Linked DNA regions of Homo sapiens. The protein of the gene in region 3 interacts with the protein of the main gene of each other region in a pairwise test. Each region holds a gene or a part of one and is shown on either strand. Other genes may lie near its edges. The genes, in order: FAM3B, MTF2, GLE1, PDS5A, LHX8, ING5 and GPR75-ASB3.

Region 1 (4,405 bases), on a different chromosome or scaffold from region 3:
GGCATGGTGGCTCATGTCTATAATCCCAGCACTTTGGGAGGCTGAGGCGGGCAGATCACTGGAGCCCAAGAGTTCAAGACCGCCCTGAGCAGTATGGCAAAACTCCGTCTCTACAAAAAAATTTTTAAAATTAGCCTGTTGTAGTGGTGCACGCTTGTACTTCCAGCTACTTGGGAGGCTGAGATGGAAGGATTGCTTGAGCCCGAGAGGCAGAGGTTGCAGTGAGCCACGATTGCACAACTGCACTCCAGCCTGGGTGACAGAGTGAGACCCTGTCTCAATAAATAAATAGATAATAAATTAACAATAAAGTGCATCTGTGAAGAGCCTGAGCTAAATAAATGTTAGTTTTTCTTCCCCCTAGCCATTTGTCTAAATTATAAGATTGAATGCAGTGTCCAGGTCCCCTGAGAGTCCAGGTCCCCTGAGGGACTGAGTCTGTAGACACTGAGAATAGATGTGTGTGGATGAACATGGGGGTGGCGGTCTCGGGAGCTGCACCAAGGCGAATGCAGACTTTCAAGGAAAAGGTGGGGGACAGCAGATGAGACTGACATTTGGTCAGGCGAAGACTTCGCGGAGCGGGGAGAGTCGCACGCCTCTTGGTACTTGACTAATGCTTAGCTCCATTTCAGACTTATGGGAGAACAGCTGGGAAATGTTGCCAGAGGAATAAACATTGCCATTGTCAACTGTAAGTTACTAAACATTTTCTTTAAACTTCTCTAAAAGCTCTCTGGTCAGATTTTCAAAGGTACCTTGGGTTTTCGAGACTTTTGCGCGTGATTTAGTCTAGGTTTGTATTTTAATGCATTTTAAGATTATATACTCAATTATTTTTACAAGTCTCACTTCACAGATTATTTGTGGTTCTAACAACAAATAAACAACTGAAAACCAAATATAGACTTTATTTTAAAAAAAGAAAAAAACAGAGGGATAGGCCAAAGTTAGGGTTAACACCAGAAGGGCCGCCAAGGGGGTGCAGCCTGTGGTCCTGGACTGAGCCTCTCATTTGCTCCCAGAGTCCCAGTGTCTGCTCAGGGGCTGACACCATAGACCATCTCATCCTTCTGTGTGATAAAAGCCACTGCAACCTCGTGGGAAACAAAACTTGGCCTTTCTCTTAGGTCTGGAATAAAGCTCTCTCACAGTTGCCTTTGAGGGGCCCAGAGGAGAAGGAAAGGGTTTCCCACAACGTCCCTGTGAGTGAGTGGGCCGCATAGCCCCGAGACGTGAGGGCTGTGGAAGTGAAGATAAAATGCTCCCAATCTGACAGCCCTGAAGGAGGCTGTAAAGTAGGAAGTGGGCAGGCTGAGGGGGCTCTGGTGTTTCTGTGGGATGAGGCGGGTGGGCCTGGCTGAGGGGGCTCTGGTGTTTCTGTGGGAAGAGGCGGGTGGGCCTGGCTGAGGGGGCTCTGGTGTTTCTGTGGGATGAGGCGGGTGGGCCTGGCTGAGGGGGCTCTGGTGTTTCTGTGGGATGAGGCGGGTGGGCCTGGCTGAGGGGGCTCTGGTGTTTCTGTGGGATGAGGCGGGTGGGCCTGAGTGAGGGGTCTCTGGTGTTTCTGTGAGATGAGTTGGGTGGGGGAGGTATTAGTGTTCCATCAGGTGTAACCCAAAGCAAACTGGAAGAAAGTTCTAGCACAGCTTCCAGCACTTTCCTTTGACCTGGTTTTGGGGACTCTCCTCAAGGGGCCCGCCCTGTCTCTGCAGGCTGGGTCATTACATCAGTGGTGTTTGCTGGAGATAGACAGGGAAGAAATATTTCCTTCCCCAGGCCCTGGTGCCACAAGTGCGCCCTAGTTCTGTGAACTTTCTTTTAAAATACCATTTCTTTTATTTTCAGATGTAACTGGGAATGTGACAGCAACACGATGTTTTGATATGTATGAAGGTGGTAAGAAAATTTTTTCTGTTAAAATTCAAATGAATTTTAAACAGAAAATTAAGATTAAAAAGCACAAAGAAAAATGTCAACCATTTTTATTTTGTCTACTAGAAAAACGCCAGCAGCTCTCCTGAGTAATCTAGAGTGGTCTTATGTAGATCCTCTTAAACTCTAATTGAATTCATAGAACATTTGAAGGCATCATCTAGAAATGTCTTTTCTTCTGTTAGTTTTCCTCAGTCTTTCTCTTTTTAGCTCTCATGATATAATAAGAAAGAGAAAAAGCCTTTTTTTTAAAAAAAAAAAAAAGCCAAATACATTATATGTAAAATAAAGCCACCAGCATCCAGCCCTAAATATCATCATCCTTTGAAAGCTGTCACGATTACTCCTGGTGACTCACAGTGCTCTGCTGGGCTCAGGGCAAGCATTCCCGGAACCCACGGGTGCCCAGTCTTTCTCGATGGTCTCTCCTTTCTAGGCACTGACTCTTGACTGCAGTTGTTGGCCAGGATATACTATCCCCTCTTATTTTTATATATCAATGAGACTTTCAAAAACAAGTTTTTATAAAGATAGTGAAGACGAAGAATAGAAAACGCCTGCACCCACCCAATAAGAAGGACACAGTTGTACTCTGCAGTTAACCTAAGCAGAACAGTAAATAATGAGCCGCAGCGGTGAGTAACAGGGTTTGAGGTTTACCTTTATTTTATAAGGCATAGATAAGTCTCTTGGCACAGACTTGCCCACGGTCCACATGTCTCGTATTTGAGTTCTGTGGGAGTCTCTCTCCTGCACACGTCGGTGTGTTTGCAAGGCCACTCTGCTCAGTGGTCGTGGTGTGGGTGTGGGTGTGGCCCTTTATCAGTGACTACAGAGAACACTCCACCTGTGCCACACAGGCTGCTGCTTGTTAAGAGTTTGGTGATCTCATTTCTAAGGAGGGTTTTTTTTTTCTACCAGGGGCTCCACTTCTCTTGTTTGTTGGTCAAAAAAGCTCCTTATCTTGACCCCCTTTCACTACTGCCCTGAACACCTATTGCAAGTGTTAGGTTCTTTTCCTTCTACGCTGTGCCACTCACCTCAGATAGTCCCTATGGTACCCCAGTGAATGTTCACACGTCCAGAGCTAGCACACCATCTGCAGGGTTGAGCAGCGAGCGCTGGGACCCCCAAGGATTCAGAATGGACACAGAATGCAGGTGCAGGAGGAAGCCCAGCACCCAAGGCAGAGCCTCAGTGAACAGCAAAGACCCTAAAACTGACTTGCATCCCCCAATAGATAACTCTGGACCGATGACAAAGTTTATTCAGAGTGCTGCTCCAAAATCCCTGCTCTTCATGGTGACCTATGACGACGGAAGCACAAGGTGAGTGGGTGTAGGTCTGTCACAGCGGTGGGCAAGAGAAGCCAGCTGGGGCAGAGGCTGCCAGGGTCTCTCAGTGACATCCTCTGGGGACAAGCAGAAAGTCCAGGAGCAAAGTACTTCTCTAAGGAAAAAGAATGAAAGATCATGACAAAATAGATGGCATTTCTTTAAAAAAAAATTAAATCACTAACCACAGAAGTACTAGAACCTAAATCAAAGGAGTATTTCAAGGAATCAAGACAAAGCCACTGTTGACCATAATTAGGACAGACAAACTAACCTCCGGACAGAAAGCCTAAACCCAGGGTGGCATTAATAGTTACAGCAATGTGAAAGGAAATTGAGATAATTTCCCTATAGAAAGAGGAAAAGAGGCTGGGCGCAGTGGCTCACACCTGTAATCCTAGCACTTGGGAGACCGAGGCAGGCGGATCACGAGGTCAAGGGTTCGAGACCATCCTGGCCAACATGGTGAAACCTTGTCTCTACTAAAAATTAAAAAATTAGCCAGGCATGGTGGCATGCACCTGTAGTCCCAGCTACTCAGGAGGCTGAGGCAGGAGAATCGCTTGAACCCAGGAGGCGGAAGTTGCAGTGAGCCAAGATTGCACCACTGCACTCCAGCCCGGTGACAGAGCGAGACTGTCTCAAAAAAAAAAAAAAAAAAAAGAGGAAAAGAATAAAGAAATACACACATACACATTCAATACTGTACTAGAAGTGGATGTAGCTCAGTGCCTCTCAGAGTGTGTCCTACTAAGTAAACCAAACCTGTGTCTTTGCTGCAGAATGTCTAAGAACCTTCAAAGTGCTTATTTGTGTGGTGAATTTCCCAGACAGGGCTACTGACCACAGCATTTCCCAAATTTATCAGATTCCTTTTTTCATGGAGCATCTTACCAAACTGAAGTTCCTTGGCACATACTTTGAAAAATTCTGACTTAACTCACTTAGAACAATCTAAACTTAACTGTTTACTTTCCTGTCTACCCTCCTGTCACTTCCTCTAAATCTTAATGTTTGCAGTGGCAGTATTGTTTTACATTTCTTTTTCCTTTTTGATGTGGACTTTTCTGATTATGAAAAGGGGGCAGTTTTGGCATTTGCTTTCATCTTTCAGCAACTTCTCTCCACCTTATTTTGTG
Region 2 (4,405 bases), on a different chromosome or scaffold from region 3:
TTATTCTGGTATCAACCTCAGGGTTTCTAAAATTTAAGACCACAGAAGAGTGGTTATTACAGAACTAGGATTTCAAATAACTTTAAGAATCAAACACAAATGACAATAAGCGATTACAAAAAGTACTAATATCTCATTTTAAACTCCCCAAAACAATCTGATACAACAGATGAGACTTCATTTTACATAAAAACCTTAAGAAAGTTTATCATGGTTTCAAATGTTAAGTATTTTTACTATCTCAAAGAAAATAATCCAAAACATAGTAGTTCCTCAAACAGCTACACTCAATCTATATGATAATCATTAGGTACCAAGCCAAAAGAAGTACAAAAACTACATAAGGAAACAATGTAATACTACCATTATCTTCTAAAATGATTCAAAAGTTTTATCTTCTCTTCATAACAATCCTATACCGTATTCAACTAAGAAAAAAATATGATACATGAATGTTACATTTTGGCTTTTCAGTATGACAGGATATTATCTCCAAAAGTGTAATATTTTTGAAACTTCTTTTTATTACTAAAAGAAGTCACAGCTTTGGATGATAATGATGTATTGATGTAGCTTCATCAATTATAACTATCTACCATTATGGTGGAGGGATGTTGATAATGGAGGAGGCAATGCATGTGTGGCAGAAGGGGACAACCTAAATCTGCTCTTAAAAAAAAAAAAAAAGTCTTTAAAATAAAAACAGTCACAGTGCTTCCTTTATTAAAAAAAGGGGGGGGGGACACAATACACGAAACAGAATACAACTGATTCAATGTAAGATTACAGCAAGTAATTACAAATGTAAATATGTATTTACTAGGTTTCTAAAATAAAAAATACCATTAAAGTTTAGCCAGCCTCATCATATGTAAAATTATAATTCAAAGTTCAGGGATAATAAATGTGGATAACTGCCTAGTTGTGCAATATATATTCCTACGCAAAATGCCATAAAAAATCTCAATCAACTTATATCATTACAAAATTTTTTCTCTGATCTGGTGGCAAGAGGAAGGAAACTCCACATTTTAGATAAACTAAAATCACAACCTTTGTTCTATTTTGTTTCATTTTTGAAGATAAATTTCTAGAGCAGGCGCTTTAGTCTATATTACGTATAACAAGAATTGCTGAGGCAGGAAGATAACTTGACCTCAGGAGTTCAAGGCTTCAGTGAGCTATGTATGACTGTACCATTGCACTCCAGCCTGAGCAAGGGTCTCTTAAAAAAAAAAAAAGAGAGAGAGAGACTCTCCTGTCCTGTCTCTTAAAAAAAAAAAAAAAAAAAAAGAAAGAGCTGATGTTCAAAATGACTAAAGTACTCCAAGGTACTCAATTATAAAATATAAACATTATATTTAGCATACACTACTTCCCATGTTTTGAAAATAATTAATGGCATTTTATAAGATTTGGAACAAGAATATAAACAAAAGTAAATTTTTGTTAACCTAAATTTGGATTAGTGACAAAATTCAATTTGTAATTCATTTTTAGTTTATCAAAAATTTTCTATTCAAATAATTTGGAATGACCCATTATTTATGTTACCTTTTTATTGATCACTACAAACATTTGAAAGTAATCTAAATGAAAAACACTGAATAAACATGATAAACTAGCATAAATTTTATCATCTCTTTATTATTAAAAACTCACCCTAAAATCCAATTATAATTACAGTACAAAAATATAAAATACAGAAAATTAGAAACCTTAACTTCAATCTGTCAGTTACCAAAGTCTGTGAATGAGATGTCTCATCTAAGAAGTCTGAATATTTTCTTATTTTAATCCACAGAAAGAACAGTAAGAAATTATTAGTCTCTTGTTTTAGTAATAAATTTGATGGTCAAAAAGTGGAAATAATTTGCAAAACTTTTTCTTTTTTTCTAAGACATTACCTCATAGGCTACAGAAATAAAAACATGTATTATTACTGAAGCAAATTTTTTCTAGTATGTTTCAGAAGTTCAGTTGGAGCTGGGACACCCAAAATTCATAAACTGAACTCTTTTCTTGAAAAATATACTAAATGTGATTTTCATTTTCTTATATTTCCAGCCTCTCAAATAAAATCTAAACACTAAAATTTAAATTTTAATTAAAAAGGACAGCATTTGAAATAAACACAACTTGAGTTTTTATATTATATATACCCAATGTCTACATCAAGTTACTACTGCAGAATTTCATCATGTAATGCAGACAATGTACTAACAGGTATACATATGTATCTGCATATGAAGTGCTAAAAGAATAATGGCTAGAAAGAATTTTTAAACAAATGTATTATAGTATTAAATATTAAGATAATTATAAAAACCACTATAGCCACTTCTAATGCCTTACCCCTTACTTTCTGATTACTAATCAGTTTATTAAAATTTATCAAATGTGGCCATGCCCAGTGGCTCATGCCTGTAATCTCAGCACTTTGGGAGGCCAAGGTGGGCGGATCACTTAAGGTCAGGAGTTCAAGACCAGCCTGGCCAACATGGCAAAACTCCATCTCTACTAAAAATACAAAAATTAGCTGGGTATGGTGGCAGGTGCCTGTAATCCCAGCTACTTAGGAGGCTAAGGCAGGAGAATGGCTTGAGCCTGGGAGGCGGAGGTTGCGGTGAGCTGAGATCACGCCATTGCACTCCAGCCTGGGTGACAGAGCAAGACTCCGTCTCCAAAAAAAAAAAAAAAAAAAAAAAAAATCAAATGTACACATCACTCACTTTCTCTCAGACTTCATCTAAAAAAAAAGTATTTAACAGAAAACTTAACAAAAATTTGTATGATAATCCAATATCTAACATTCAAAACTCAAATGATGAATTCAAAAATTCATCAATTGAATTTCAATAATATCCTAGATTTTAAAACTACAAACTAAATCATGCATTATGTTCTCCCTGATATCCCATAAACCCCCAAAAAGCCCTTTGATATCCTATTTGATATGAAATAGGATGTCCTTCGTGTCTCAAAGCTACAAATCAAGAAATTCTTCCTAAACTTCAAATCAGTGTGCAAAATTTTTACCTAAAAAAAAGCATGACTAAGATATACATATCAAATTCCATATTATAAAACAAATTTTTTAGTTTTAACTAAAAGTAGTTAATATATGTACTTTAGTAATTCTAAATAAAAGCTAAAAATAAGGTCCCTAACTATTAAACTTATTCTAGTTACTTTTCTCTTTCTGCTATTCATTAGTTTCAAAATTTTCTTTAATGAACACACATTACTTTTAAATTCATTTAAAAAAAGACTGTAAACCAGCATAGGTAGTTACACTTCAAAAATGAGAAGCAAAATGAGATGTCAGAATGAGAGGGGATAATTTTCTATTCAGGCAGCTTCACTCTACAACTCATTTTTCTAACAATATTATTAGATCCCACCATTCCTACAAGTCAGAAATATATAAAGGAGTACCAACAAGAGAGGAAGGAAGAATGTTGGTTATATCTCTAAGTTTATAGAAAACTTAGAAGAAAAGGAGGTTGAACTACAAGTAAGATACCCAATACTAAAGATTTCTCCCTCCCTTCTATCTTTAACTACAATGACTTTCACTTCAGAAAATGAAAGAATCAAATAATATACCTCCTCCTTCTACAAATTTCCAGAGTCAACAGGCAACAAACACACAGGAGGATGAGAAGGCTGGTCCTGATATCCATACCAAACTTATTTGTCCCCAGAACTAAAAATAAAATTCTATTTTAGTTGTCTGACTTATACATGTGTCTCAGTTGTTTTTTGAAAAACAAAACAAAACAAAAAAGACATCAAGTAGCTACTGAAGTTAGTTCTCAGACCACCTACCTCTCCAGGGTGCAATCTATCCCAGTTTTCATTAATGTATGTCATAAGCTCAAGTTCAGAATCAAAGTATTTCTTCTTATGAATAACACTTAGGTTGTAAAGGCATAGGTGTGCTATATCTACCCTGGAATCCGAAAATAATCAAATACACAAAACAATGTTTTTGGTTACTGTTAAAAAATCACGGTTTCCTTATAAAACAGTAATTAAAATGCAAAGAGAAATATTTAGGTGGATAGTCATATTCACAATACAATAAATCACTACACATAAAAATAACTAGAAAATAGTGACTAAACATTCACTTATTCTGAATAGCAACTATAAACTAGAAGATATATGAATTACTTCTTTTTTTTTTTTTTTTTTTTCTTGGAGACAGAGTTTCGCTGATTGCCCAGGCTGGAGTAGTACAATGGCACAACGTCAGCTCACTGCAACTTCCGCCCCGTGGGTTCAAGCGATTCTCCTGCCTCAGCCTCCCTCAGCCTCCCGAGTAGCTGGGATTACAGGCGCCCACCACCACGCTAGGCTAAATTTTTTTGTATTTTTAGTAGAAACGTGGTTTCACCGT
Region 3 (4,405 bases):
CAGTGGTATGATCAAGGCTCACTGCAAACTTCACCACCCAGGTTCAAGTGATCCTCCCGCCTCAGCCTCCTGAGTAGCTAGGACCACAGGCACATGCCACCATAGCCGGCTAATTTTTTTTTTTGAGATGGAATTTCCATCTTGTCGCCCAGGCTAGAAAGCAATAGCACGATCTCAGGCAATCTCCGCCTCTCGGGTTCAAGCGATTCTTCTGCCTCTGCCTCCCGAGTAGCTGTGATTAAGGCACCTGCCACCACACCTGGCTAATTTTTTGTATTTTTAGTAGAGACAGGGTTTCACCATGTTGGCCAGGCTGGTCTTGAACTATTGACCTCAGGTGATCTGCCCGCCTCAGCCTCACAAAGTGCTGGGATTACAAATGTGAGCCACCGCGCCTGGCCTTTTTTTTTTTTTTTTGAGACAGAGTTTCACTCTTGTTGCCCAGGCTGGAGTGCAATGGCATGATCTCGGCTCAGTGCAACCTCCACCTCCTGGGTACAAGCGATTTTCCTGCCTCAACCTCCTGAGTGGCTGGGATTACAGGTGCCTGCCACCATGCCCAGCTAATTTTTTGTATTTTTAGTAGAAACGGGTTTTCCCCATATTGGCCAGGCTGGTCTCAAACTCTTGGCCTCAGGTGATCCGCCCGCTTTGGCGGCCTTGGCTTCCCAAAGTGCTGGGATTACAGGCGTGAGCCACCGCGCCCAGCCAACACCTGGCTAATTTTGTAGAGACAGGGTCTCACTATGTTACCCAGGCTGGTCTTGAACTCCTGGGCTCAAGCGATCCTTCTGCTTCAACCTCCCAAATTGTTAAAGTAATTACAGGCATGAGGCACTGCACCTGGCCCAGAGATTACTTTTTATGGCTAAAAAATAACAATATATTATTACACTCAGCATTACTATTAATATATTATTACAGGCCGGGCGTGGTGGCTCACGCCTGTAATCCCAGCACTTTGGGAGGCCAAGGCGGGCAGATCACAAGGTCAAGAGATCGAGACCATCCTGGCCAACATGGTGAAACCCCATCTCTATTAAAAGTATAAAAATTAGCTGGGCGTGGTGGTGGGCGCCTGTAGTCCCAGCTACTCGGGAGGCTGAGGCAGGATAATCACTTGAACCCAGGAGGCAGAGGTTGCAGTGAGCTGAGATCACGCCACTGCACTCCAGCCTGGGTGACAAAGCGAGACGCTGTCTCAAAAAAAAATAAAAAAAATAAAAAATATGTATATATATTATTACATATTATTACATCTGTAGAATACTTTGTTTACCAAGCACTCATATCCATCATCAAATCTGAGCTTCATGTAAGCCATGAGGTAAATTCACAGGAGGTAATAGATGTCATTACCCTCATTTAAAAATCAGGAAAAGATGCTCAAAAAGACTAAATGATTTGTCCATTTTTGCAAAGGTATTAAATGACAAAGCAGGGATAAAATTCCAAGACCCCAGTATCCTTTCCACTAAACTACATTGACTACTGGCACCTAAGTTCACAAATCCCAAAGGCTCTCCAGTTTACATAAAAGACTATGTATATATATTTTTTCTTTCTTTTTTGAGACACACTCTTGCTGTGTCACCCAGGCTGGAGTATACTGGTGCGATCTTGGCTCACTGCGACCTCCGCCTTCCGGGTTCAAGCAATTCTCGTGCCTCAGCCTCCTGAGTAGCTGGGACTACAGGTGTGCACCATTACACCTGGCTAATTTTTGGTATTTTTAGTAGAGATGGCGTTTCTCCATGTTGCCCAGGCTGGTCTCAAACTCCTGAGCTCAGGCAATCCACCCAACTTGGCCTCCCAAAATGTTGGGATTACAGGCATGAGCCACTGCACCCGGCCGAAAGACATTATATTTCTGATAGAACATTCAAGGTACGTAATAGGAGCTGTGAGGAGGGAAAAACAAATTCCAATTCTATTTATATTTCATTAATCACTCTAGGGATAGTGAGTAGGGAGAAAAACAACTTTACCTCTGATAGTCTTCCAAAGCCATTCCCTCCTTGAAAGTGGGATAGAAAGGAACAGAGTAAGGACACTTCTTATGTAGATGAGCAAGAATGAGGTCCCCCACTCTGGGGTGGAGCTCCCAGATCCCGGATGCCACAACTGCAATGGGGAATGCTGCTTCATGGTGAGAGGCCACTTCCTCCTCGCCTTGTTTCTGAGAACATAGAGGTGGGTACAATTTTAACTTAATACCAGAAAAAGGCTGAAATCTTGTACACCAGCCTCTGCTTCCCATACCTCTAGCAACAAGGTTTCTCACCACAAATTTCTCTGCCAGTTTGTATTGAACAAAGTCCAGCCCCTGTGGGTTAAGTGTGACAGACACAGAGCGCCCACCAGATTGAACAGGTTTTCCAGAGAGCAGGCTGTGGATCTTGTCAAAGATCTCCTTCAGTTTTGAGCCTGAGCATGATAGAGAGAAATTAAAAGATATAACCACAGATCAATCTCTTTTTCTTTTCCTTTTTTTTTTTTTTTTTTTTTTTTTGAGACAGTATCACTCTACTGCCCAGGCTGGAGTGCAGTGGCACAATCTTGGCTCACTGCAACCTCCGTCTCCCGAGTTGAAGCAATTCTCTGCCTCAGCCTCCTGAGTAGCTGGGATCACAGACGCCCGCCACCACACTGGGCTAAGTTTTGTATTTTTTTTTTTTTGTAGAGATGGGATTTCACCATGTTGGCCAGGCTGGTCTCTAACTGCTGACCTCAAGTGATCCGCCCGCTTTGGCCTCCCAAAGTGCTGGGATTACAGGCGTGAGCCACCATGCCCAGCCTGTTTCATCATTGTAATTACAAAGCATCTACAAAAACCCAGCTGTGCTGCCCTACAGAAATGAAGGGATAAACAGTATCCCTTACTGTACACATAAAATGAAGGGATAAACAGTATAGAAAGAGGTGTTACATTTTGTTACAGACCCCATGGACTGTGGTTGGTATCTCTAGAGGAGTTAGTCACATCTCTAGGAAAAACCTTCTAAAGGATCTAACCAGCTCATGATGATATGCCCCCTTCTCAGGACTTGCCTTCTTCCGTCCTCAGAGACACAGAAGTGGATTCGTAACAGCTATATTTGTACCAAAGATTTTGTGTGCTCCACCCCCACACTAGCTACAGTTAGATTAGAGGCAGTCAAGCTGAGCCAGTCAGTCAACTAAGAGTCACTTCCTTGAGGTAGCTGGCCCTGTGTCACATACACTCACAAGCAGTGGGGGCTGCGTACCTGCCATGAAGACCAAAGAACGGCAATCTATAAAATAAGAATGGAGATGTAGAGAGGACAGATGAGATGAGAGAGGAAAAAAGAACTAAAGTTTCTAGCTCCTGAGACCTCACCTCATTCCTGCCACTGGGTTCTGTAGGATATTTCTTTATCTTTCCAATAAATGCTTTTTTTTTTTTGCTTAAGCAGATCTGGGCCAGCACTTTGGGAGGCCAAGGCAGGCAGATCACTTGTGGTCAGGAGTTCGAGACCAGCCTGACCAACATGGTGATACCTCGTCTCTACTAAAAATGCAAAAATTAGCCAGGTGTGGTGGCGGGTGCCTGTAATCCCAGCTACTCGGGGAGGCTGAGGCAGGAGAATCGTTTGAACCCAGGAAGCGCAGGTTACAGTGAGCCGAGATTGTGCCACTGCACTCCAGCCTGGGTGACAAAGCAAGACTCCATCTCCTCCCTAAAAAAAAAAAAAAAAAAAAAAAAAAAGCAAAGCAGATCTGAATTACTTTCCATTACCTGAAGTCCTGAAGTCAATGTTTTAATTAATACAGCATCTCCAGTTGAGAAATACCCTGTCAAGTTCCTAATCACTTCAAGAAATGTCACAAAAGTTTCAGAAATATCCTGTCATTCAGTTCTCTTATCAAAAAAAAAAAAAGCCAACCATGTGGACCCCACTGGCTGAATGCCCCATCTAGCATCTAGCCTCTCTCCATACCTCTCTAGGTAGGAGGAAAGTTAGTTAGCTTCCAACCCTAGACTGACGTGGCCTCCCCATGCCACAGCAACATCATGTCCTTATTTAAGATTTCTTCTAATTCTAACCACTCATGGACATCCATCTTTTTTTTTTTTTTTTTTTTTGAGCTGGAGTCTCACTCTGTCACCCAGGCTAGAGTGCAGTGGTTCGATGTCACCTCACTGCAACCTCTGCCTTCCGGGTTCAAGTGATTCTTCCACCTCAGCCTCCCAAGTAGCTGGGACTACAGGTGTGTGCCACCACGCCCGGCTAATTTTTGTATTTTTAGTAGACACGGGGTTTCACCATGTTGGCCAGCCTGATCTCAAACTCCTGACCTCAAGTGATCTGTCTGCCTCATCCTCTCAAAATGCTGGGATTACAGGTGTGAGCCACCACACCCGGCGACATCCACTTTTTTT
Region 4 (4,405 bases), on a different chromosome or scaffold from region 3:
GCTAGAAAGTTTTGGTACAAGGAAAGAAAATCTCAAAGTGCAAGGGACATAAAACAAACTGAAAAACATGTATACGCTTGGAGCACAAGGCATGTGTGTGGAGCATAAGGAAGCTGGAGCATTCCACAGACACAGATCAAATCATGAAGGCCTTATTAAAAAGGCTAAGGCATATACATGAAGCACTATAGACTATTTTGAAAAATGAAGTATCAAAAATGATGCAGATTCAAGATGCCAAATTTACATTATTGTGTTTATTCTAAACTTTTCTCTCTCCAGGAACACAGATTTTCTTCTCTCAGAAATCCCATCCATATTTCCAGGTGCCCAGATGACCTCTGAGAATTACTAATCTCTAAACACTCTTTGTCAGATATTTTGAAATGTAAACAAACATCAAAACCTTAAGCAAGGAAAGGGATTAGTAACCATGATACAACACTATCGTAATAGAATTTCTGCCAAAATGACAGTCTTTTTTTCTTTTCTTTCTTTTTTTTTTTTTTTTTTTTGAGACAAGTCTCACTCTGTTGCCCAGGCTGCAGTACAATGGGATAATCTCGGCTCACTGCAACATCTGCCTCCTGGGTTCAAGCAATTCTCCGGCCTCAGCCTCCCTAGTAGCTGGGATTACAGGCGTGCACCACCATGCCCAACTAATATTTTTGTATTTTTAGTAGAGATGGGGTTTCACCATGTTGGCCAGGCTGGTCTCGAACTCCTAACCTCAAATTATCTGCCTGCCCTGGCCTCCCAAAATGCTGGGATTACAGGGGTTAGCCTCCACGTCCGGCCTAAAAATGCAGTCTTAATCTAATAATGCAGGAACACTTGAAGAAGCCACAATGGCAAACAGTCAAATTCCTAACTCAAAATTCTCTCTCTTTTTTAAGACAGAATCTCACTACATTGCCCAGGATGGTCAAGCTTCTAGGCTGAAAAGATCCTTCCATCTTCAGATCAGAATTCTTAATGACATCACTCATTTACTTTGTGTATTTTTGACAAAAATTACATATACGATGGTGTACAACATAATATATGTATATATTGTAACATTTACTTTAAAAAAAAAATCTATTAAAGTGAAATGACCACACATCCTGGTTGGCCTGGGACAGTTTGATTATGCTATTTAAGTAAAAATATCAATAGTGATCCCTTTCAGTCTGAAAATAATCCAGTTGGACCATTAATCATATGGCCATCTTACACAGAGAAGATCTGAATATGTTCACCCAACAAAGAATCAGTATTCAGTTATTAGGCTTAATATTTAGTCTGGAAGGATAAAGCACCAGTAGTTTTAGACACTAGCCACAGGTATTTTGACGTGGTCATTTATTTGAACACCTGAAACCATCCTACTACTGACCTGGCTGCCAAACAAGCCTACACATATAAGAATAACCTGAACATAAATCGTAACATTTTGTCTATAAATATTTACCTGAGGTTCTTGATTCAACTATAGAAGCAGCAACAATCCAATCAATAACAACTAATTAGATAAGATGAAGTAATTTTACGAAATCCTTAGAAAATACAGCAGTTATTTGAAAAGTAACTTACTTTACAGCATTTGGATCCAAACTAGCATATAAGTAATATAAGCATTTCATTCTCTCTTCTGTTTCCAGGTTGTGGGGGACAAGATACTGAGCAAAGATTTTCTCTACCAACAGTCTAGGAAATAACAACAACAAAAAAAACCTAAGTGACACAATTATTCCATTTTTAAGAAGCAATTTTTTTTTTTTTTTTTGGAGACAGGGTCTTGCTCTGTCACCCAGGCTGGAGTACAGTGGTGCAAACTCGGCTCAATGCAACCTCTGTCTCGCAGGTTCAAGCGATTCTCCCACCTCAGCCTCTCCAGTAGCTAGGACTACAGGCGCGTGCCACCATGCCCAGCTAATTTTTATATTTTTTGTAGAGACAAGGTGTCCCTATGTTGCCAAGGCTGATCTGGAACTCCTGAGCTCAGGCAATCCGCCTGCCTTAGCGTCCTGAAGTGCTGGGATTACGACGGGCATGAGGCACCACACCCAGCCAACATTTTAAGTTTTAACCATCTTATGCCAGGATACCATATCAAGATAATAGCTATGTGTGCACATACAATGGAAGATATCAGTTTATAATGACTTCCTTCTTGGAAAGCTTTCAGTACAGTTTAACTTTAGAGACACGGTTACTGTCTGTGGCTTTATAATTTGTCAGTATGAAACATTTGTTCTAGAAGGTTTAAATGTTATTCCTAAACACAGGGTGCTAGGCTGTTCCGCCTATTCTTCTTCAGCAGTCTAGAACAAAAGCAAATTCATTAACGCAACATATAAAGCTATGATCCGCGGTAGAGCTAATTCTCAAGAAACTCATTAATTTCCTCTGATTACAGTTCAGCCCATTTTCCATGTTGTCACATAGTTAAAAACAGGGGGACCCCCCTTCATATTACTTCCAGAAAATGTAGTTTTTCCTGTGTACATCTGATTATTGTTCTCTCCATGATCTAAATTCCTTACCAATATTGGAATATCCTTCTTGCTAGTACCTATTGCTTGTATCTTCTTGCTTCTATTATTTAATATCACTGGATTAAGAATATACAAGATCTCTTAATTAACAAATGAAATACATATCCAGTGATGCCAGAGAAGTTAGTTTAATTAAACAAAACAATGGAAACTATTCTGCACACACCAAGTATCATTTGTACGATCCAATATAGAATTATAAGTAATATTCAGAAAATGAAAACAACTTAGTAATTCCTCTATTGGTAGTGGTGTAAAAAGGAAAGTAACTAGCAGTTAACTCAATAGTGCTCTCTTGCCACACATTGGGCTAGGATGCTTTATATTCATTATTTTATTTAATCTACATGATAATCCTGTGGGAAAGGCACTATTATTTTTCCTTTTTATATAAAACTGAAGCGCACAAGACCTTAATGAACCTATGTAAGAATACACATCTAATAAAGGGCAGAGTGAACATTTGGTCTCTAACTCCAAAGTTCATGCCTATTTCATATTATAAGGCTACCTTATAATCGTGGACAGTCTTGTTTAAACACAGTACATAAAAATATGTAAAAAGCTATCTCTAAACTTAGAAATAAATGATTAATCAAGTTGAATAAACTTAATTTTATTTATGAAGTAAATACATAAAAATAAGAAATTACTAAAATATTAAATAGACATTTTTTAAGTAAAAAGTAGTTTTACACTCAACCATTCTACCAACATATTAAACTCACTTGTCGTCAATGCTGTTCTGATAATAAATATGCAGAAGTTTGTCCTTTATCCAGCTGACTTTCTCTGCAGCTTCCTTTCCTGCTTCACCATGAAGACAGTATTTCTTATAAAGCTGAGCCAGACCCATCATAGCTTCTTTTCTTACTCGCCACTAAAAAGCATAAAATTTATTAGATGAGCAAGATAACAAAACTCTGTACTAATCTCCAAAGACTGCCTTGGCTTCATTAGGTTGTACAGTCTTATGTGTGCCTTTATAAACTGGCACACTATTTCTCTTCAAAAGAGGCTTTACAAACAATTTTATTTTTTTTTTGAGACGGAGTCTCACTCTGTCGCCTAGGCTGGAGTGCAGTGGCAGGATCTTGGCTCACTGCAAGCTCCGCCTCCCAGGTTCACACCATTCTCCTGCCTCAGCCTCCCAAGTAGCTGGGACTACAGGCGCCCGCACGCCCGGCTAATTTTTTATTTTTAGTAGAGACGGGGTTTCACCCTGTTAGCCAGGATGGTCTCGATCTCCTGACCTCATGATCCGCCCGCCTCGGCCCCCCAAAGTGCTGGGATTACAGGCGTGAGCCACCGCGCCCAGCCTACAAACAATTTTGAATCTGTTCCTATTTAGAAATTTTCCAATGCAAATATTGCTAAATGATCTACTTTTTTCTTTTTAAAGAAATGGGGTTTCGTTACGTTGCCTAGGCTGGTCTCAAATTTCTGGGCTAAAGTGATCCTCCTGCCTTAGCATCCTGAGTACCTAGAACTACAGGTTACTGATTTTTTATTTCCCTTGAAAACTATTAATAACCTTATGGGAGAGTTCATTTGATTCTATTGAAAGAAAATTCACCAAGTTTTAGAAGTGATTATAATTCCCCTTGCAAACAAAACCCCTATTATCTGGAATGTTTTAATTGCCAGTTACATCCCTTTAGATGTTAACTTCGGATAAGAACAAAGTTCACTATCAAGAATTCTGGGCCAGGCATGGTGGCTCATGCCTGTAATCCCAGCACTGTGGGAGGCCAAGGCAGGTGCATCGCTTGAGCTCAGGACTTGGGGAACTGACTACCCAGTGAATCTAAAATCCTAGTAAATCTAAAATTGTAGTGAATCTAGGAGTTGAGCTGGCTGACTAA
Region 5 (4,405 bases), on a different chromosome or scaffold from region 3:
TACTCTGAAGGGCTACAACATATAGTGAGCCTATGTATAGATACAAATAATAAACACATAAGCATGCTAGTACTCTTTCCTTTGGAATCATATCAAAAATATTTAATGTTCAACCTTAACATATTGAAAGCCAACATTCAAAATATATTCTCCAAATGGTAGGGCTTAGGACAAAGTTAACTTGCTCATAGTACTAGTAACCTAAATGCCTGGAAATTACATGACAGATGTCTGCCTGTGTTCCTTAGTCCTTCAAATATGAAAAGCTCTAAGAAAACTCTCCTTCTTCTTTGCTTCCAACTTCAAAATGATATAAGTCATGCATCTGACTTACCTGAAGCTATCATTGTTATGAATATACAGAGTCTTAAATTAGAAGGAACTTTTAGCCCGTGGAGTCGGAACTACCTGCCAAAGAAAACTGTTCTCCCAGGCAGAGGAAACTCACTACCTTCCTTGGTAGTCCGTGCCATTTGTGTAGCCTTTCAATAATGAGAAAATTCATTATGAGTGAACACCAGTGCCTTTTTCTACATTCCGTTGCAGGGAAGCCTTTCACAAATATTTAAAGACACCTACTCTGGATATTACTCTTTCTCTTACCATCTCCTGGCCTTATCTCCAGATAAATATCCCTGCTGCCTTTAATATTATGGCATGATCTAAATCTTTCACAACCCTGGTAGCCTTTGAGGTAGTATGTTTTTCAGATTGCTTATTAGTCCCTTCTTAAAATTTGGCACTCTGAAATAAGCACAATAATCTGGATATCTGAAAGTGCTGAAGTGGTAGAACTTGTCTCCTAAGACAGCCTCATTACCTTGCAGTCAATTAAAACACTGTGAACCCTAGGTCTTTAGAGAAGCTGCAGTATCATCAGGTCTTTTCCATCTGCTTCTTCGTACAGGTGATTTGTTAATTATGAAACCTTTAGGCTTACAGAAGAATAAGTACCCATGTATCAACCACCCAAATTAAGAAACAAAATAAAATATGTGCAATGAAGACATTTGCCTTTCCCCTCCCTGAGTTTCCTCTTGCCTTTTATGGTTACTTGCTTTCACTCCTTAAATTTTTTGAACTTCCGGTGTTATTTAAAATTATTTTCCGGCTAGGCACGGTGGCTCACCCCTGTAATCCCGTCACTTTGGAAGGCTGAGGCGGGCGGATCACAAGGTCAAGAGTTTGAGAACAGCCTGACCAACATGGTGAAACCCCGTCTCTACTAAAAATACAAAAATTAGCTAGGCATGGTGGCTTGCACCTGTAATCCCAGCTACTCAGAAGGCTGAGGCAGGAGAATTGCTTGAACCCGGGAGGCGGAGGTTCCAGTGAGCCGAGATCACACCACTGCACTCCAGCCTGGGTGACAGAGACTCTGTCTCGAAAAAAAAAAAAAAAAGAAATAAAATTATTTTCCATTTCCCTGGTCTCTCTGATAATCTTGACACAGCTGGCCATCTCGTTCTTGAATTCACCCCACTTCTTCAGCTTCCATGCTTCTTCTCCACCCGACTCCTTCCTCAACTCTGGCTGTTACTACGTCCCATTTAAATAGCACCTCTTACCCTGCTCTCCTCTCTGAAACCCGTTCTTCACCTTTTATACCCTATGATCTCTTTCTAAAGGATCTTATCTAATTTCATGGCATTAGATCTCTTTGCTTGAGTCCTGTTCATTCTTTCAAATACCTGTTTGCATAGTTAACTGCCACCATCACTGCATAATTAGCACAGCTAAAAGGGTCCAACTTCCAATCCAGCTTTCTTTTGACTTTCACATTCCTGTCAATGGCACCATTCCCAAGATTACTTTGACTTGAAATTTATAAGTCACTGACTTTTTTGAGAGAGGATCTTACTCCATCACCCAGGCTGGAGTGCAGTGGTACTATCATGGCTGACTGCAGCTTCAACCTCCTGGACTTAGGTGACCCTCCCACCTCAGCCTCCCAAGTAGCTGGGACTGCAGGTACACACTAGCATGCCTGGCTGTTTTTTTTCCTGTAGAGATGGGGTTTCACCATCTTGCCTAGACTGGTATCAAACTCCTGTACTCAAGTGACATATTTGCCTTGACCTCCCAAAATGCTGGGATTACAGGTGTGAGCAACTGAGCCTGGCAGAGTCATTTACTCTTTGACTCCTCTCTGCTTCCCCATTGCAGTTACCAATTCTTTCTTGTCTTTCTAGCATCCATCAACTGTCATCAGTGTTCACTCAATAAAATGTTTCTCAGCTGGGCATGGTGGCTCATTGCCAATAATTCCAGCACTTTGGGAGGCCAAGGGAGGAGGATTACTTGAGTCTAGGAATTTGAGACCAGCCTGGGCAACACGGTGAGACTCTGTTTCTACAAAAATTTAAAAATTAGCCAGGCGTGGTGGTGTGCAACTGTGGTCCCAGTTATTTGGGAGGCTGAGGTGGGAGGATCACCTGAGACCTGGAGGTCGCTGCAGTGAGCTGTGATTGCGTCACTGCACTCCAGCCTAGGCCACCCATGACCCTGTTTCAAAAAGTTTCCCAAATGAATTCTACCCCAGTAAAGTGTCTCTTCAGAAACAAACAAACAAAAAACAAACAACAACAACAACAACAACAAAACCACACTACGTTGCTGGGCATTCCAGCCTTCCAACTAAGCTGCTTACCTCTATCTAGTCTCTCCCAACTCCAGTTCTTCCCATGTGCTGTGACTAGCCCTTTCTTCCTAAAATCACATATCATGGCTTTTACCTGCTCATAAGAGAACTCTGCATTCACAGGCCTCTCCAACTTTAACTCCAACAATTTCATTTCCCACTATTTCCAAACATAAATTCTACATTTGAAAAAACTTGCACTAATTCATCACTTTTCAGCTTTGTTCACACCAGTTCCTCTCCCTGGATCTTTGGCAAAGGCCATCAGCAGCCATCACACACACAATCATAAAAAAAGTAGGAAAAACACTGACCTTAGAGCAAGATTTATCTTGGAACATGTTTAGCCTGAGGATCTTAGGGTTGCTGTGAGTACTGAATGAAGTAACATGAGCAAAGACTCATTTGACAAATGGTAGCCTAGCCCAAGCAGGATAATCATTACATTTTAAAAATTTGATTTAGAATGTGAAGAGACTTAAAATGAAAAAGCAATGTTTTCACATTTCTTCACACACAAAAAAACACCAATGCATACTTATAAATACCCAGAATTAGAACTTTTTGTTTCTCTTGATTGACCTTTAAGTTAATCACCTGTGGCCAGGTACAGTGGCTCATCCTGTAATCCCATTACTTTGGGAGGCTGAGGTGGGAGAATCACTTAAGCTCAAGAGTTCAAGATCAGTCTGGGCAACATAGGGAGACCCAATATCTATTTTTTAAAAACCTTAAAAAAAAAAAAAAGTAAAGTAATCACCTGTATCACACGTCTGCTCAAGCCTGTCCTTTCTGCCAATTTCTGGAGTGTCTGTGCATCTGGGTTGTTGTCCTGAGCAAATTGTGCTTGCATAACCTGTTGTTTAAAACATGTATGTAGTAAATAGCTAAAAACAAGCAGCTCAGTCTTCTTCCTGCATTTTTATCATAAGAGGTAAGACATGCACAAGAACATGGGATACTTTTGTTACTTGAAAATCGGTATGGGGAAATATGGGTAAGTGAAAACGAATGCATATTTTGTAAATTTATACACAAGTTGCTATGCTGAGAACTTTAAAAAAATCCATTTCAATGTAAAACTCTCTCAACTATGCTGTTAAAAATAAGCTCACCTTTTCTTTTCTTTCAATCTTATAACCCACAAATCAAATAGCAAGAGTTTCATTTATTGTTTTTTCCATTTTGTTAAAAACTGCCAACATTTGAAAACTTAATACAAAAATCATATCACATTTGTCTCCAACCTTTCCTGAGCTAAAGATGTTCAAGGCCCCTAATACCTAATAGTATACAGATCAACAGAAGGATTCCACTTAATTGTAACAACTCCATCATAGTTTTGAGCACTAGCTCTATGCAAAAAAAAAGGTGTCTAAAAAGAGACACTCACCAGTCCACTGAATAAGAATTTACCAGAGTCTAAACATGTATATATTTTAAAAGCTTACAGGTGATTCTGATGTAAGCCTTTGGATTGAAACCACTATGCCAAGTGCTAAGAGATAGTGAAACATGAAACAAAACTCTTTGGATTTAATTTCCTGGCAGAAAGATGCCGACATGCCAATGACTACCTATAATAAAAGATAAAGGGAGAAGAGTAGTGTGGGAGAGAGTACCAGAATATAAGCACAAGCCAAAAACTTTGAATTCTTTCAGAAAAGAGAATCATTATGAGAATTAAGTGAGATACTTGAATTTTATTACTAAAAGTCAGTCAACTGAGGGAAGCATTACAAAATGTAAAAAATGTATTATTAT
Region 6 (4,405 bases), on a different chromosome or scaffold from region 3:
AACTAATAGCAAGATGGTGAACCTAAATCCCACCATATCATTAATTATGTTAAATATGAACAGACCAAATATTGCAATGAAGGCCGGGTGCGGTGGCTCATGCCTGTAATCCCAGCACTTTACAGGGAGGGGAGGCCAAGGTGGGCAGATCATTTGAGGTCAGGAGTTCGAGACCAGCCTGCCCAGCATGGTGAAATCCTGTCTCTGTTAAAAATACAAAAATTAGCTGGCTTTCAAAGGATTTCAATTATGTAATGTTCTTTGACCACAACAGAAGTCAACTAAAAAATTAAAATTAGAAAGGTATCTGAAAAATCCCAAATTATTTGGAAATTGAGACACATACTTCTACATAAGTTATAGGGCAAAGAAGTAGCATGAAAAAAAAAATTCTAGGTCAGGTGCGGTGGCTCACGCCTGTAATCCCAGTATGTTGGGAGGCCAAGGCAGGCAGATCACCTGAGGTCAGGAGTTCAAGACCAGCCTGGCCAACATGGTGAAACCCTGTCTCTACTAAAAATACAAAAAAAAATTAGCCAGGCATGGTGATACGTGCCTGTAATCCCAGCTACCCAGGAGGCTGAGGCAAGAGAATTGCTTGAACCTGGGAGGTGGAGGTTGCAGTGAGCCAAGATCACACCACTGCACTCAAGCCTGGGCAACAGAGTGAGGCTCCGTCTCACCAAAAAAAAAAAAAAAAAAAAAAAAATTCTATTCCAGCACTTTGGGAGGCCAACGTGGGTGGATCACTTGAGCTCAGGAGTTTAAGACCACCCTGGGCAACATGGTGAAACTCCATCTCTACCAAAAATATAAAAAATTAGCCAGGCATGGTGGCATGCACTTGTGGTCCCAGCTACTTGGGAGGCCGAAGTGGGAGGATCTCTTGAGCCCAGGAGGTGGAGGCTGCAGTGAGCCAGGATCATGCCACTACACTCCAGCCTGGGTGACAGAGTGAGACCTCATCTCAAAAAACAAGAAAAACATTCTAAAATATTTTAAATAGGTAAACGAAATAAAAATTTAAAACAATATCAAAATTATATCAAAATCATAATATATCAAAATTTGTGGAGTGCAACAAAGATAATAATTAGAACAAGGAAGATATAAAAATCAATTATGCAAGCTACTTCCACCTTAAAAAGCTAGAATAGTATAGGCAAAGTAAACCTGAGTAGAAAACAGGAAATAGAGAGTAGAAACAAATGCAATAGCAAACAAAAAAATAGAGAAAACAATAAAAATAATGAAACTAAAAGCTAGTTCTCTAAAAAGATCAAGACGGCCAGACGCAGTGGCTCACGCCTGTAATCTCAACACACGGAGAGGTTGAGGCAGGCGGACTGCTTGAGCCCAGATGTTTGAGACCAGCCTGGGCAACATGATGAAACCCTGTCTCTACAAAAAATTAGCCAGGCATAGTGGCGCATGTCTGTGGTCCCAGCTACTCGGGAGCTGAGGTGGGAGAATCACTTGAGCCTGGGGACAGGGAGGTGGAGGCTGCAGTGAGCCATGTGCATGCCACTGCACTCCAGCCTAGGTGACACAGCTAGACCCTGCCCTCAGGGAAAAAAAAAAAAGGATCAAGACAAAATGAGAGAAACATAAATTACCAGTATCAGGACTGAAAGAGGGGTCATCATAACAGACACATCAGAACCATAATAATGCAAAATTATTAACAACCTGATGTCAAAAAAATCTGACAACTTACATGAAACAAATTTCTTGAAAGACACAGATTTTTTCCAAAACTGACTCGAGAAGAAATAGAAAGCCTGAATACTTCCATAACTTTAAAGGAACTGAATGCAACATCAAACTGTACACTTAGAATAACATTTTATTGTATGTAAATTATTCCTTAATAAAGTTAATTTAAAAGGTTAGAAAAACAACAGGACTAAACTATAATGTATAGTGTCTAGGAATGCACTATAAAACTATTAAAGAAACAAGGAAATAAACACTATAGAAATCTGGATCATGTTTATTTGGGGGCAGGAGGAGTTTATGATTTTAACAGGGCATATGGAAGGCCTTCCAGCAGCAGTTAATCACTGACTAGGTGCTACTTACAAAGATCTTCACTTTACGGAAATTAATTAAACCATGTTTGTTCTGTGCGGTTTTCTGTATCTGTGCACTACTTTACAATACGAGAATGTTGGGATTTTTTTTTTTTTTTTGAGACGGAGTTTTGCTCTGTCACCCAGGCTGGGGTGCAGTGGTGTGATCTTGACTCACTGCAACCTCCACTTCCCGGGTTCAAACAATCTCCCTGCGTCAGCCTCCCGAGTAGCTGGGATTACAGGCAGCTGCCAACTACTCAGCTAAGTATTTTGCATTTTTGGTAGAGACGGGGTTTCACCATATTGGTCAGGCTGGTCTTGAACTCCTGACCTCAGGTGATTAACCTGCCTTGGCCTCCCAAAGTGCTGCGATTACAGGCATGAGCCACCTCGCCCGGCCAAAAGGCTAAGCACTAGCTAAAAAACTGAAAATTGGGGCTGGGCACAGTGGCTCACGCCTGTAATCCCAGCACTTTGGGAGGCCAAGGCAGGTGGATCACGAGGTCAGGAGATCAAGACTATCCTGACTAACAAGGTGAAACCTCATCTCTACAAAAAATAAAAAAAAATTGGCTGGGTGTGGTGGCATGCACCTGTAGTCCCAGCTACTTGGGAGGCTCAGGCAGGAGAACTGCTTGAACCTGGGAGGCAGAGGTTGCAGTGAGCTGAGATCGCGCCACCACACTCCAGCCTGAGGGACAGAGCAAGACTCCATCTCAAAAAAAAAAAAAAAAAAAAACTGAAAATTGGGTCGGGTGTGATGGCTCATGCCTGTAATCCCAGCACTTTGGGAGGCCGAGGCAGGTGGATCACCTGAGGTCAGGAGTTCGAGACCAGCCTGGCTAACATGGTGAAATCCCATCTCTACTAAAAATACAAAAACTTAGCCGGGCATGGTGGTGCGCACTTGTAGTTGCAGCTATCCAGGAGGGTGAGGCAGGAGAATCGCTTGAACCTGGGAGGCAGAGGTTGCAGTGAGCCGAGATGGCGCCATTGCACTCCAGCTTGGGCAACAAGAGCGAAACCCCATCTCAAAAAAAAAAAAAAAGAAAATTGTCCCTTTTTTGTCAAGAAGAACTCTTTTTTTCTCTTTATTTTTTTTTTTTGAGACAGAGTCTCATGCTGTGGCCCAGGCTGGAATGTAGTGGTGCGATCGTGGCTCATGATCCTCCCAGCTCAGCTTTCCCTAGTAGCTGGGACTACAGCCCACACCACCACCCTCAGCTAATTTTTTCTATTTTTTGTAGAGATGGGGGACTCACTTGGTTGCCCAGACTGGTCTCAGATTCCTGGGCTCAAGTGATCCTCCCGCCTTGGCCTCCCAAAGTGCGGGAATTATAGGCATGAGCTACCGTGCCCAAAACTTACACTCTTTGACCCTCCCTCTGTGAGATCATCTCCACAGAGGCTTCGTGGCATTTCAGCATTTTCTCTTTAGTCTAAATGTCACTCCTCTGAGGTAATGCTACGATCTCTTTGGAGGGTATACAACACCTTTGGCAGGGAGGGTGTCAGTGGGAGAATGCTTTAAATAAAGTATCTCAAAAAACTTCAAGTTAAATGACATGTCTATTTAATAAATGTGGCCACATAATTAACAATGAATATATGCACACTATATGTTGACACATAAAATAACTGACAGATATACAGAAATCTAGCTACTTAAAGAGTGGTCTACATTGGCCTCTGTCAACAACACGTTGCTCACCATCCTCCTGTCCCTAGTGGGGCAGCACACACTGTGGCTAAGAGGACAGGCACTGGAGTCAGACTCCAGGTGCAGCCCAGCCGCACCACAGCAGCCCTAAAGCCTGGGCAGGTCCCTGCGACACTGAAAATGCCCCTGACAACGGCACCCCCTCAAAGGCTGCGGTGAGGACAGGCTGACGACAGGCGCGCAGCGTAAGAATCAGAATACCACCCGGCACACGGGGTGCACTTCACTCGGGTCAGCTTCCATCAGTGTTCCTACATCCGGGATACAGGCTATGGGTATTCGTTCTTTTGGGAAAAAGAGGGGAAAGCCTCTTACCCTCCTTTGTGCTTCTTTTTCTTTGGTGTGTCTTCCTCTGATGTCCTCCTGCCTCGGCCCCGGGACCCTCTTTTTTCTTTCTGACCCCGGCCTTCTGAAAAATAATCAAGATGCAAATTATTTTTATAGAATTCTCTAAAGCAAGGCAAGTTTTGTGTTTTGTTTTTAAAAAGGGGTCTCGCTCTGTCTCCCAGGCTGGCTGGAGTGCAGCGGAGCAATCATAGCTCACCGCAGCCTTGACCTCCCGGGCTCAAGCAATCCACCCACCTCAGCCTCCCGAGTAGCTGGGACCACA
Region 7 (3,493 bases), on a different chromosome or scaffold from region 3:
CATGCTGTAACTCAAAGAAAGTGAAACTGTGTCCTTATTTATATAGTGGTGAGTAAAAAATACATAAATAAACTGCAAGCCATAGATGTTGCATTCTAGATGTGTTCATGTATCCATTTTAAATTAGAATGTTTAAAGTATGTATGGTTGTTGTGGTCACCTGCTTTAAGGTGAGTTTCTATTAACTGACCAATTATTGTTCATGATCCTACTAAGAGGGCTTCCTTATACTTGATAGTTGAACATAGTCAATCTACTTAAACCTTTGGAAAACGGTGGTGTTTGCAGCTTGGGCCTGCTTTCCATATGTATTCCTGCAACTTCCTCCAGTGGCCCCTTTACCTGTGTCTTCCCATCTTTCATGTGAGAACCATCATTTCTCCTTTAAGTTTACAGAAAAGTGTCAAATTTAAGTAAGATATGGATATGAAAAAAGTTAGAAATAAATGTGCGTGCTATATACTATAGATACTGTAATCTTATTATTTATAATAGGGAATCTATGACTCATGATTTAAGAAAATGCCCAGCTTAGACTTAGGTTTTATGTACAAAATCGATAACTTTTGCTTTCTTATTTGGCATTTTGAAACACCAGTTTGAGTGATTTCTTTAATTCTGAATAAACTAAACTAAACCTAAACTAGTAAACTAAAAACGATGATGAGTTAACTTCTATGGCTTGGAAGATATTGAAGATGTTAGAGAATTAATTGGTCTCAAGCCCTATGGGTATTAGAGTTTAAAGAACCCTATACCTGGAATCAGACTAGCTGGTCTGGTATCAGCTGTGCTCTTGATAGTACTTGTCTTTGATGCTCTGATCCTGGTCTGTTCATCATTGTTAAATTTCACAGGGATTTATAAAAGATTTCTTGAATTAACAAAAGGCTTTGGTCCGATTCACATAAAAGCAGACATTAACTTCTTTATTTAACACTTTTCATCTTGGAAAATGAAACTGCTATCATATGATTCTTTTCTTTTTTTTTTTGAGAAGGAGTTTCCCTCTTGTTGCCCAGGCTGGAGTGCAGTGGCATGATCTCGGCTCACTGCAACCTCCGCCTCCCAGGTTCAAGCAATTATTTTGCCTCAGCCTCCCTAGTAGGTGGGATTACAGGCATGTGCCACCACGCCAAGCTAATTTTGTATTTTTAGTAGAGACGTTGTTTCACCATGTTGGTCAGGCTGGTTTTGAACTCCTGACGTCAGGTGATCTGCCCGCCTCAGCCTCCCAAAGTACTGGGATTACAGGCATGAGCCACCGCGCCTGGCCTATCATACAGTTCTTAATTATGTGCATTTGAATTGTCCTTTAATTGGTAGTTAGCTTTTGGCTGCACTGCCTTGCCAGATACACACACACACACACACACACACACACACACACACACACACACGCTTTGGGTTCAGATAGATCTGAGTTTGAATCCTGGCTCTGCTGCTTACTAGCTCTGTGACTTTGGAAAGTTGTTTTTTTAAATTTCTACAACAGCCTGATAATATATACTTCATGAAGTTAATGAAGATAAAAAGAGAATTTGAGTGAAGTACATGGGCTTATGGCATAGAAGGCACTCAGTAAATACTCCCTTTCTCTCAGAGTCAATTAAAAATTTTCATTTTATGTTATGGATAAAAAGGAAAACTTGCAAGCTGTACATCTATTCACTTGATGTGATAGGTCTGGAAACCATTTGTAATGAAATAGATTAAGAGGAAGGTAGCATTTGCTATTGTGAGCTTCCACCATTTCTAAAGTTGGTTCATCCATTTCTTAAGTGCAGGTATTAACAGATCTTTAGAATTTGAGCATTTAGTGTTTGCGGCCCTGGATACTGACTTTGAATGTGTGGCCAACAAACTGAAGGGAGAGGAGCCAGTTGAAGGCTGTAGAAAAGAATAAATAAGGTTTATTGTGGTCATACTGACTCAAAGTAGTCTTCTTTCAAGCAATATATCACTTTTATTACTAAGAGTTGGGGGAAAAAAAAATTTACCTTTATGTGCTATTACATCTTTCTGTTTAAAAAAGTTTCACCTTGCTTTTTTTGTTTCTCCAGCCACTGTTCCATCCCTGACCCATCTTTGTCGTTTGGAAATTCGGTCCAGTCTAAAATCAGAACGTCTACGGTCTGACAGTTATATTAGTCAGCTGCCACTTCCCAGAAGCCTACATAATTATTTGCTCTATGAAGACGTTCTGAGGATGTATGAAGTTCCAGAACTGGCAGCTATTCAAGATGGATAAATCAGTGAAACTACTTAACACAGCTAATTTTTTTCTCTGAAAAATCATCGAGACAAAAGAGCCACAGAGTACAAGTTTTTATGATTTTATAGTCAAAAGATGATTATTGATTGTGAGATAGGTTAGGTTTTGGGGGGCCAGTAGTTCAGTGAGAATGTTTATGTTTACAACTAGCCTTCCCAGTAAAAAAAAAAAAAAAAAAAAAAAAAATTGTAAACATCACTTATATTACTTTATTGCAGCTTCATCACCAGTACATTATATGTTGTAATATTTATTTACCTGATCATTTTGATCATTTTCTGCTTTATTTTGCTAATAAACTGTGATGTTACTTCTAGTGCTAAACATGGCATATTTCCACCTATGATTCGTGTTTACCTGGTATTAGGAGCTCAGAATGGAATGCATAAAGCTTCACTGGAAGTGTATACAACTGTGGTGTAGAATCTGTTATTATTATCATTATTATTTTATTTAGACTTGACTATCTCTTATGTTTATTAAAGAACATGTTTTCCTATTCAGTTGCTTTTTTTTTTTTTTTTTTTTTGGAGACAGAATCTTGCATTGTCACCGAGGCTGGAGTGCAGTGGTGCAATCTCGGCTCACTGCAACCTCTGCCCCAGGGTAATTCAGTCACTTTTATGAAGAATTGATACTCATTGCCGTTTCACATGTAAACTCACAGGAAAAAATTACTTTGAAAGAACATAGAAAATCAATCATATTGCTGGGTTTTCCCTTCCAGTTTCTTTTCATTCTTTGGCAAAACAAACAAACAAACAAAACCAACCAACCCAATTCTAATCTGCAAAGGCAAGAACAGCCCTAAACTCAAAGATGTGCTCAGCTGGGAAAAAAAATGGTTTCAGTTTTGAGATAAATGGGCATGTTAGCACAATTAGGATTTTAATCAGGAGACTGAGAGGGGCATGTCTGTGGCACCATCTTTAAAGAAAGAAAGGGGCCGGGCGTGGTGACTCACGCCCTTAATCCCAGCACTTTGGGAGGCCAAGGCAGGCGGATCACGAGGTCAGGAGATTGAGACCATCCTGGCTAACATGGTGAAACCCCATCTGTACTAAAAATACAAAAAAATTATCTGTGCATGGTGATGGGTGCCTGTAGTCCCAACTACCCTGGAGGCTGAGGCAGTAGAATGGCGTGAACCTGGGAGACGGAGCTTGCAGTGAGCCGAGATGGCGCCACTGCACTCCAGCCTGGGAGACAGAGTGAGAC

Evidence for each region.
Region 1: the proteins of GLE1 (region 3) and FAM3B interact in binary tests that used the Homo sapiens proteins (3 or more experiments, as listed by UniProt).
Region 2: the proteins of GLE1 (region 3) and MTF2 interact in binary tests that used the Homo sapiens proteins (3 or more experiments, as listed by UniProt).
Region 4: the proteins of GLE1 (region 3) and PDS5A interact in binary tests that used the Homo sapiens proteins (3 or more experiments, as listed by UniProt).
Region 5: the proteins of GLE1 (region 3) and LHX8 interact in binary tests that used the Homo sapiens proteins (3 or more experiments, as listed by UniProt).
Region 6: the proteins of GLE1 (region 3) and ING5 interact in binary tests that used the Homo sapiens proteins (3 or more experiments, as listed by UniProt).
Region 7: the proteins of GLE1 (region 3) and GPR75-ASB3 interact in binary tests that used the Homo sapiens proteins (3 or more experiments, as listed by UniProt).

What each region holds. Positions count from the first base shown.
Region 1 is NC_000021.9:41,343,841-41,348,245, forward strand, and holds part of FAM3B (protein FAM3B isoform a precursor), read left to right. Parts: intron 1-635; coding exon 636-694; intron 695-1,845; coding exon 1,846-1,896; intron 1,897-2,368; exon of another isoform or gene 2,369-2,567; intron 2,568-3,172; coding exon 3,173-3,260; intron 3,261-4,405. UniProt on the Homo sapiens protein: Induces apoptosis of alpha and beta cells in a dose- and time-dependent manner.
Region 2 is NC_000001.11:93,120,099-93,124,503, reverse strand, and holds part of MTF2 (metal-response element-binding transcription factor 2), read right to left. Parts: intron 3,956-4,405; coding exon 3,832-3,955; intron 1-3,831. UniProt on the Homo sapiens protein: Polycomb group (PcG) protein that specifically binds histone H3 trimethylated at 'Lys-36' (H3K36me3) and recruits the PRC2 complex, thus enhancing PRC2 H3K27me3 methylation activity.
Region 3 is NC_000009.12:128,531,535-128,535,939, reverse strand, and holds part of GLE1 (mRNA export factor GLE1), read right to left. Parts: intron 3,276-4,405; coding exon of another isoform or gene 3,249-3,275; intron 2,428-3,248; coding exon 2,285-2,427; intron 2,180-2,284; coding exon 1,989-2,179; intron 1-1,988. UniProt on the Homo sapiens protein: Required for the export of mRNAs containing poly(A) tails from the nucleus into the cytoplasm. May be involved in the terminal step of the mRNA transport through the nuclear pore complex (NPC).
Region 4 is NC_000004.12:39,900,772-39,905,176, forward strand, and holds part of PDS5A (sister chromatid cohesion protein PDS5 homolog A), read right to left. Parts: intron 3,421-4,405; coding exon 3,269-3,420; intron 1,690-3,268; coding exon 1,576-1,689; intron 1-1,575. UniProt on the Homo sapiens protein: Probable regulator of sister chromatid cohesion in mitosis which may stabilize cohesin complex association with chromatin. May couple sister chromatid cohesion during mitosis to DNA replication.
Region 5 is NC_000001.11:75,147,679-75,152,083, reverse strand, and holds part of LHX8 (LIM/homeobox protein Lhx8), read right to left. Parts: intron 3,498-4,405; coding exon 3,402-3,497; intron 1-3,401. UniProt on the Homo sapiens protein: Transcription factor involved in differentiation of certain neurons and mesenchymal cells.
Region 6 is NC_000002.12:241,711,777-241,716,181, reverse strand, and holds part of ING5 (inhibitor of growth protein 5), read right to left. Parts: intron 4,205-4,405; coding exon 4,111-4,204; intron 1-4,110. UniProt on the Homo sapiens protein: Component of the HBO1 complex, which specifically mediates acetylation of histone H3 at 'Lys-14' (H3K14ac) and, to a lower extent, acetylation of histone H4. Component of the MOZ/MORF complex which has a histone H3 acetyltransferase activity.
Region 7 is NC_000002.12:53,669,261-53,672,753, reverse strand, and holds the end of GPR75-ASB3 (GPR75-ASB3 protein), read left to right. Parts: intron 1-2,063; coding exon 2,064-2,251; 3' UTR 2,252-2,461; downstream 2,462-3,493. Other genes in the region: ASB3 (ankyrin repeat and SOCS box protein 3), read left to right, coding at 2,064-2,251. UniProt on the Homo sapiens protein: Probable substrate-recognition component of a SCF-like ECS (Elongin-Cullin-SOCS-box protein) E3 ubiquitin-protein ligase complex which mediates the ubiquitination and subsequent proteasomal degradation of target proteins. Recognizes TNFRSF1B.